2 linked regions of the Homo sapiens genome follow. The protein of the gene in region 2 purifies or fractionates together with the protein of the main gene of each other region. This does not show direct contact. Each region holds a gene or a part of one and is shown on either strand. Other genes may lie near its edges.

Region 1 (3,372 bases), on a different chromosome or scaffold from region 2:
CATAACCCATATGCTATTGTGCCATAGAATGACATGCAAGTATTTCATCTTTCCATCCAGACACTGTCATTGTCACAATGTGTACAATCAAGTGGGACAAGATTCACTGGTCCACTGAATCTACATTCCCTGTAACACTTGGGTAAATAACTCAGTCTGGGCGATCAACCCTTCACATTGTACTCCCGCTGAAATGCCTGCCATCCCAGGAGTTTATGAGCTATAAAAATAAAATAAAGTTCCTCCAGTATTTTTATAATAACTATCCAAAGAGTTGAACACACATTTTCTGGGATCTTAACACTCAAAAAAACTCATGAGATGGTTTATTGGATAACAAAGAAAACCCAACTTCAAGTATATTTGAGGTCATTTTCCCTCGTCCTGCTGCTCAGAGCAGAGCAGGTGAGACAGGAAAGGAGCAGAACCTGAATTGTTGGATTTGGCCTGAAATACTTGCAGGGACTCAGAGAGCCATTGAGGAACATGAGGTGAGCTGGAGCCAAAAGCAGAGCTCCAAAGAATTGCCTGAGATTAGCATGGAGGCGGGGAAGGGGGAGCAAAGCCTTTGTCTCTGGGTCTCTGCTGTGTCCAATATGGAAAGACCCATTCCTTTCCTTGCTAAATGCTTTCCCTCCCCATCCTCCTCACCCAAGGACTGCTCAAAGGTGAAACCATTACTAGAAATTCTGTTTTTATTTTTCCAATCGGCTGGGGCTTTTTGGTCCCAGAATTAAATATATGCTCCTTAAATGCTCTCATAAATCCACAGTTGGTGAGAAAGCCAGCCAACCATACAACAGGTAGAGAAATGAAACCACTCTGTATCCAACCTCAAATAATTTTGCATATCATTAAGCAGAACACAGTCACAGGTTTATTTTAATAATGCATGTGCCATTTCATAAATAAAAAAGCAACGTGTTTTCAGCCAAGAGACTATTCTCCACTGAAGAAATAATAAATAAAATTATAAATTATTATTTCTTCTACTAAAAGTGATCTCTCAGATGAATGCTTGTTTGCTTTTGTTTATGAAACAATGCATGAATTATTAAAATAAAGTTAGCGGTGTGTTCAGTTTAATGATAACAAAAACTGTTCAAGTTTCCATATGCTACAAACTGGATTTTCTAGCTAAAGTATCTTCCTGAGAACTTATTTATTTAACTACATTTCACTCTGAGGAAAGTCACTTTTTTTTCTTTCAGGTTGGAAGACAATAATTGTTTGCTTCATTGAGTCTTGCCTTCCTGAAAAGAAAATATCCCAAACCGACAGCAACAAAATATTTAAGGAAAATTGATGATGCATATAACTTATTCAAGCACTACCAAGAGGTTAAACTATTCTGTCCCCAGATGTGGAAATTTTTAGACATGAAGGAACCAAAATAAACTTCTCAAAAAATTACTATTACTACTGCTATTATCATAAAACTAATTGCATTATTATTAGTATAATAGTATTAGTACTATTACTATTGTTACTACTACTAATAGTAATAGTGGCTCATCATTTCATAAGTTGACCAGAAAATTCAAATTGCCCAGTGTAAATATTAAAATGTATGAAACTTTGTTTTTCTCACCTCCCAAACATTCCTAAACACTTTCCTGTTCATTTGTTATCCTCCTTTTATCCTCTATGGGTAAGGATAAAGGGCTATTTTTAGGGCCCCGGCTGTGGTAGAAAGGAAGTGGAAATGGGGATGAGAACTCAACATTGCTGCCAATGCTACAAATGTGGCCACAACAATGTCAGACCAGGAAAAATGCTATGGCGGGCTTCCTCGACTCCTGGCAGCAAACCATCTTGGACACGATACTGAAACTGACAGCCAGTCCAGTGCCCACTGTTCCTCAGAGTCCCCATCCCCCCATCCCATCTTCACTGAGCTTCTCACCACCCTCCCTTATCTCATGCTCCTTGCCAGCCCCTTCCTTCATGTCAAGGTCTTAGACATACTTCATTCCATACTTCATACCCAGTTTCCATCCCAATTTCACCCTGACACTTGGGCAACAGCCCATTGCCCAATCATGATCCAAGAATTCTGAAAGACCATTGAATCATTTTGCATTTTCTGGTGGAAGAGAACACACAGCACAGAACTGTCAGGAGCAACAGTACCCTTTTACCTACTCCACTACCAAGGAAGCAAAAATAATTTGGTGTTAAGCAGATAGGTGAGTTGTTGGAATTTTCTTTTCACTCCAGAAATCACAGGTGCACCTCTCTGTTAGAGCAGCTATGGAAGGCAGCCTAGTATGGAAAATACTACTAGACAGATTCTAATTCAAAGCCTGATTCCAACAGTAGTTGTGTATCCTTGAGCAAGTTACTTAACCTTCTGAGCCTCAGTTTCCTCATGTCAGAAGAAAAATAATACCAACTCTGCAAAATAGTTACGAAAAATACAGAGAAGACATGTAAATGTTACTCAGTAAATGGTAAATATCTCAATATAATCACATCATGTTACAACTGGAGGTTTAGATGTCTCATTTCCTAGATAGTGGCTTCTGGAGGTTTCTTTACTCATGCTGGTAACCCCAGTACCCAGAACAGGGCCAGCCACACAGTGGCACCAAATTATGTTTGTGGAATAAAGGAATGAAAGATTAATCAAGTCACCTAAACTCAGCTTACCCTTATTTATAAAACACTAGCCTTCTACCCTGCTACATATCTGGTTTTTCAAAAAGCCTGGCATTTACTCCATGGAACATAATTTGAGGAACCCTCTATAGAAGTTTAGCCTTGGTTGGCACTCTCTTCATCATGCAATTCATTAGATGGCACCATGGTACTCTGAAAATACCTGAGGAAGCCATAATCATGAGAATTTAAAATATTCTGACTTGGCTTTTTAAAAGTATCATGGTTAGTAGCATTTTTTTGAAGCCAATAATTATATGCCTACAGAGGAAAATTAGTCTTGGATCTATTAATGCACTCTCTCAACTGGGCAACTGAACTTTGTTTGAGCCAGGAGGAGAATATGATTGACTTATAAGAATTAGGCAATTAAAACAATCATAGTCATAAAATGATTAAGACTAAATTGACTCTGAAGTGTTGGATATATGCTGTTCAACATGTGGCTCTTCCCTAAGCTTGAGATTTTAGCAGGTCACCCCATTTCTTTCAGACCCCATTTAATCATCAGCTACTTACTGAGCATCACTATGGACCAGCACAGAACCTTGCATCCCCAAGCAAACTGGAGATCAACCCCTGAGCACCCGATCACATTTGGCCTATATACAGTCATTTAGATTCACAGGCAAAACAGAGACAGACTGAAGTTTTAAGGGAAAAAAGTTAATGAGTAGAAGGCCAATTATTTTAGATTAGAAAGTTCTATGA
Region 2 (5,068 bases):
GAACTGGGGTACCCACAACAGGTACAGCCTCACCTGGAGTGCACACACCCCAAGACCAGAGAGGGGCTTGGGTTTCTACAAAACGGAGTTAAAAAAAATCGTTTTATGGTTTCTTTTGGTTTTATTTTTCTGGGTGTGTGCTGCCACACCTGGCTTTTTTTTTAGAGGTGGGGTCTTGCTGTATTGCCCAGGCTGGTCTCTAACTTCCGGCCTCAAGCAACCCTCCTGCCTTGGCTTCCCGAAGCACTAGGATTACGGGTGTGAGTCACCACATTGGCCTGTTTTATGGTTCCACATGTTGATTTGGTAACGGTTAGATTAAGAAAATCCTACCACACAAACATATTTAAGTCCAAAATACACTGAATCGCGAGGGCAGGTGCATGAATAGAGCACAGACCTCTAAACACTTAACGCTTTGGGGAGCTGTCACCAAATTTCAAGATGAGAATGCACCAACGGGAAACCCTGAGAAGTGTCACAGCCCTATCCTTATCATCTCCCCCGCGCCCTGACCCCATACTCTGGCCCCCGGAACCTCCGTCTCCTGGAACCAGACCCCTCCCACAGCTCGCGTCTCTCCTGGGCATGATGACCACACAGCTCTCCCAAGGCCAGGGAAGAGGCCCCCCAGCTCAGCTCCTTGTAGCCCTGGTCTGCACGGGCTCCAGGCTCTGGGGAGGTGCCGCCCTTTTCCTCCATGCTCACCTTGTCCCAGTCCACCTTCTCCACGTCCACCAGGATCCGCATGAGCTCAGGGATGGAGAGGGCGGGGTGGGTGTCGTTCAGCTGGATGGCCACCTGAAGGTCGCACAAGGGGTGCCATTCAGTCATTTCATCCCACGTGGGCACCCACGGTTGTTGGCATACGAAGCTCCCCAAGTGAAGGAGCCAGCCCAGCCCACCCCACCCCCGAGAAGCCTGGAGAACAGGGAGGGGTTCTGTGGAGGGAGCAGGGAGGACAGTCGGGCTCGCACTGTGGCAGGTGTGCGCTGTGCCCGATGTGCCTGCTGGTGAGTGCCCTACAGCTGTGTGCTCTGCTGCGGGTATGTGCTGCAGCCGGAGGGGAGGAGCCGTGGCCACCGGGGCTGGGGGCTCTCTCACTGGAACTATAGGGCTTTGTTTGGAATAACCCCATTTAGCCTGCCCAGCACATCTGACTTTGCACAGGAGCCTTTCACCATGTCCCTTGCTGACCTGACTCCTAACAAGGCCGGTGGCCCTTGTTCTGGAAGGGAGGGCCCAGGTGGGATCCTGGCCCAGAATGACGAGACCCCAAGACAAGGGGCATGTACCATTCCACTCTAGCCCCTTTTGGGACATGAGAAAGCAACCTCAAGAGCCTGAAGGCGCCCAGCCCCTGGCACTGAGATCCCTCCCAGGGCCACCATGCACCTTGTCTGGGAACGTCTCGAAACAGGTTCTCACAGGGTCCCGGCAGCCGAACTTGGACGACTTGAAGCGGCGGATGATGTCCTGGAGCGTGGCGGCCACCACGAAGTACTCCTGCTTCAGCCGCAGCTCCTTCCCCTCAAAGAACTGCACACAGCAGAGCAAGCTGGAGGGTGCAGGCTGGGCCATTCTCCTCCCCCAGGAAGCCCAGGTCAGCGACCTGGCTCAAAGGTGCAGGCAGAAGGCCGAGAGGAGCCCAGCCCAGCTGCCTGACACTGGGGCCTGCCTGTGTGCCCTCAGGTCACTGAGGAAGGTAACCCCGCCTGTGGGACACACCCCGGGACACAGTGTCCATCCGTCAGAAGTACAGTGCCAGCGCTGCTCAGGAGCTGCACTGTCCAAGCACAGGCCTTCTGGAACATTCTGTACCTGGGGCTTGGGGTCTGCCAACAGTCTCATGGGGACAGGGGAGTGCACTCTTTGATGAGCCTTCCGGCACCCAGGCCTTTGCTCCTGTGTGCACAGGTTACTTTCATAAAACAAAAAGCTCACTTTTAAACATGCTCTGCCCACTAGGGCATCTTCTAAGGACTTGTCAGGCAACAACAACAAAAAGAAAGCCACTGGGCACTAAATGCAGGTGGCAGTGGGGAACATGGCTGCGACACCATCACCTAGTATGGGAAGGGCATGTGCCAAGGACCTTTCAAATGTCCCCAGGCATCAATGCCAAGTAGGCGCTACGGTCCCCTGGACAGACAGATCACCTGCTTGGGGAAGTGGCACTGCAGGCTAGAACAGCACACAGACTGGAGGGCTGACGGGCTCCAGCTGGCCCCAAGGAGCGGCTGTGTGTTTATGAGGGGAGTGGATAAGAGGGGAAGGTGGCAGAGAGTGTCCTCGGAGAGAGGACCACAGAGCTGCCAAGAGGCACACGAAGAGCCGCTTGGGCTTTATGGAGGACAGTGCACCCTCTCCTCCCCAAGGGCATCGTGTGTGCACCTAAGGCGAGAGGGCCACCAGGTGGCTGCTTGCCAAGGCCAACAGCAGGCCCCACTGGGGAGCCCGGCCAGCCAGCCCACCTCTCTATGCCAGAAAGCGATACGGCCTGAGCAAGAGTGCCCAGGCCAGCTACTCACGTTATCATTTGGATACAGGACCCTGGAGATGTTCTCAGCCAAGTTCCGGTCCAGGACCGCCTCGATGTAGTCTCCCACGTTGACTAAGAAGAAATGGAGCGGGGTCAACACACACATGCCTCCTGGCACCAGCACTGCAACCGCTCAGGGGCCTACTTGCAAAGGCCAAGGAAACTCGCTCGAGCACAGGACTCCCCCAGCCGCTGCATTACTTCCCCTCACCCCCATCCCTGGAGGTAAACGTGATCCCTCCTGCAGCTCCCCTATGTACCGCACACAACTCCATCCCCCTCACTCCTCCCCAGGGGCACATGATCTGCACAAGGTGACCCTGGGTGCCCAGGGCCCAGGTGTCTTGGTCGCTCTGCCTGTAGGCCCTTCCCGGGCAGGCCCCACACACAGGTAAGCTGCACCAGCCTCGCTCTTCACTGGGACGCAGGGACACCCTAGAGGAGGGCCGCGCGGCCTCCAGGACAGTGAGCCACAGGGCGCGGTAAAGGCTGTGGGCGAGGGTGTCTGGGACCAGCCACCCACATGGACACAAGGGTGCCAAGAACCACGGAACGTACAGTCCTGCAGCTTGAAGTCGTTGGGAGCCTTGGCGGACCACAGCCGCATGGTGTTGACGGTGTTGTTCTTGTAGCCGGGCACTGGGGTGTCGTAGGGCATGGCCAGCACCACCTGGCCACAAAACGGGTTGCTCAGGACGGAGTGGCAAGGGCCCCCGCCGGCCCCTGTGCCTCTCCCCGGCCCAGCCTCCTCCTGGGCACCTGGCGCCCTGCTGGCCCCCCACCGTCTCCCCCTTCTGCCCAAACACATCCACCCAGCCCATGCTCGGCACCACAGTCTCCGTCCACGCCCTCCCCTGTGGTGCCCACATTGTCATCCTGAGAGGACCACCCGTCCCACCACCCTCCCCAGACCAGACCTATCTTCTCACTTGACCTTCCTCAGGAATGGCTTTGACTGAAGAATCATCCCCATCCCGACTCCCTGAGGTGCTGCAGCACCAACCCCCACCTCCCTCCTTACCCTCTGCCCTCCGCGCCTCCCCTCCTCAGTCAACTCTGCTCTAGCAACTCCAACACGCAGATGCTTGCCCCGCAGATCACCTCTCTCAGCTCCACCTGCGGGAAGGTTGCTCCTGCAGCTGCCTTGCCTGCTACCCTCCATGTTCCCAGCCCCCCAGCACAAGCCCAGCTGCGCTCCCTCCACCCCAGCCTGGCTCCCTCTCTCCTTGACAAGCCCCCAGGTTCCCCTGCATCCAGAGACATCAGCTCCGCTACCACCAAGGGCAGGAGGGGGCTCACAAAGCTGAGGCTCACCTGTGGTCCCAGCTCCCCGGCAGGCGCACTCAGGGATGCTTGGGTTCATCCCGGCACACACGTGCCTGTGGCACTGCCAGTCAGCTCTGACAGCCACACAGGCGGCGCACCGGGGCCACCAAGACTAAAACCCCAGTATCCCTTTCCCTTCCTCTCTCCTGTCAACCCTTGCCCCTGCCCCACAAGGCGACACCCAAGTGAGCGACAAGTCCCCGCCAAGGCATTCTAGCCCCTTCCATCCTGGCCAGGCCTCGGGGCTAAGCCCATCTTCACAGCCTGCCTGGAATGTCCCGGTTCTCCAGCATCCCCACTCACACTGACATGCTCATCCACAAACACATCTACAGCGCCGGTCCCCTACCCTGCTCTTGCAAGTTAAATACAACTTTTCAGGGCATTTTCAGCCTCCATGGCATGGCCCCAGCCACTCGAAGCCCATGTATTTGATTTAAAACTGTGTCCTACAAAGTCAAGACAACTCCCTCTGCACACCAGTGACCACCCAGCCTCCAGGCTCTCCTGTTATTGCCCGTCCTTCTCCATCACAGGTGGCTGAGTCTCACCGATGCCCCCACGTTCTCCTGCAGCCTCTCCTGCCAGCCCCTGCCCTGCCCCAGTCATCCCGGCTTACAGCTGCCCGGAGCCTGGACTGGGTGCTCCCTCACGTGGCCTCTGCGTGCCTGGCACCCGTCGCTGCCGAGCACTCTAGGCTCTTGCCCTGATTCCCCATCAGCACCCTGCTGGGCAGGAGGGCCTGGCCCCATCCCCGGATGTCACCCAGGCCTCGCACACACTCCAGGGGCTCTGACAGTTGACGCTTTGAGAGCCATGGGCCACGTATGGCGCCAGGAGGCCAAGCGAGCTTGTCGTGTGCTCCACAGAGATAGTGGGAGCTGTTTTCGCCCACCCTGGGGGTCCGTGCCCCCATCCCATCAGAACACCCTCCTGCCTGCCCTTAAGCAGCGGGGTTCTCGTGAGCATCTGGCTGTGAGTGGACGCCCAGCTGCATTCTTAGCCCCAACACACAGCTCCTGCCCAGCGGGGCTTCCCCCATGGAGTCTCGCTGCTGTGCTCAGCGCTTCCACTGTTTGGGAAGCTCCCATCAAAGTGTAAGAGACTGGGGAGTGAGGAGAATAAACCTCCCCCGGCTTTTACCTTAAGTCCTCCAGGGAGGCAGCAAGCCCCCCAAGCCAAAAGAAGCTGAGCTGTCTA

What was found. The genes of interacting proteins can lie anywhere in the genome.
Region 1: the proteins of PYGB (region 2) and OLFM4 purify together in Homo sapiens (co-immunoprecipitation; one large-scale study listed by IntAct). This does not show direct contact.

What each region holds. Positions count from the first base shown.
Region 1 is NC_000013.11:53,045,813-53,049,184, reverse strand, and holds part of OLFM4 (olfactomedin-4 precursor), read right to left. Parts: intron 1-3,372. UniProt on the Homo sapiens protein: May promote proliferation of pancreatic cancer cells by favoring the transition from the S to G2/M phase. In myeloid leukemic cell lines, inhibits cell growth and induces cell differentiation and apoptosis.
Region 2 is NC_000020.11:25,274,790-25,279,857, reverse strand, and holds part of PYGB (glycogen phosphorylase, brain form), read right to left. Parts: intron 3,213-5,068; coding exon 3,101-3,212; intron 2,615-3,100; coding exon 2,532-2,614; intron 1,540-2,531; coding exon 1,396-1,539; intron 802-1,395; coding exon 709-801; intron 1-708. UniProt on the Homo sapiens protein: Glycogen phosphorylase that regulates glycogen mobilization. Phosphorylase is an important allosteric enzyme in carbohydrate metabolism. Enzymes from different sources differ in their regulatory mechanisms and in their natural substrates.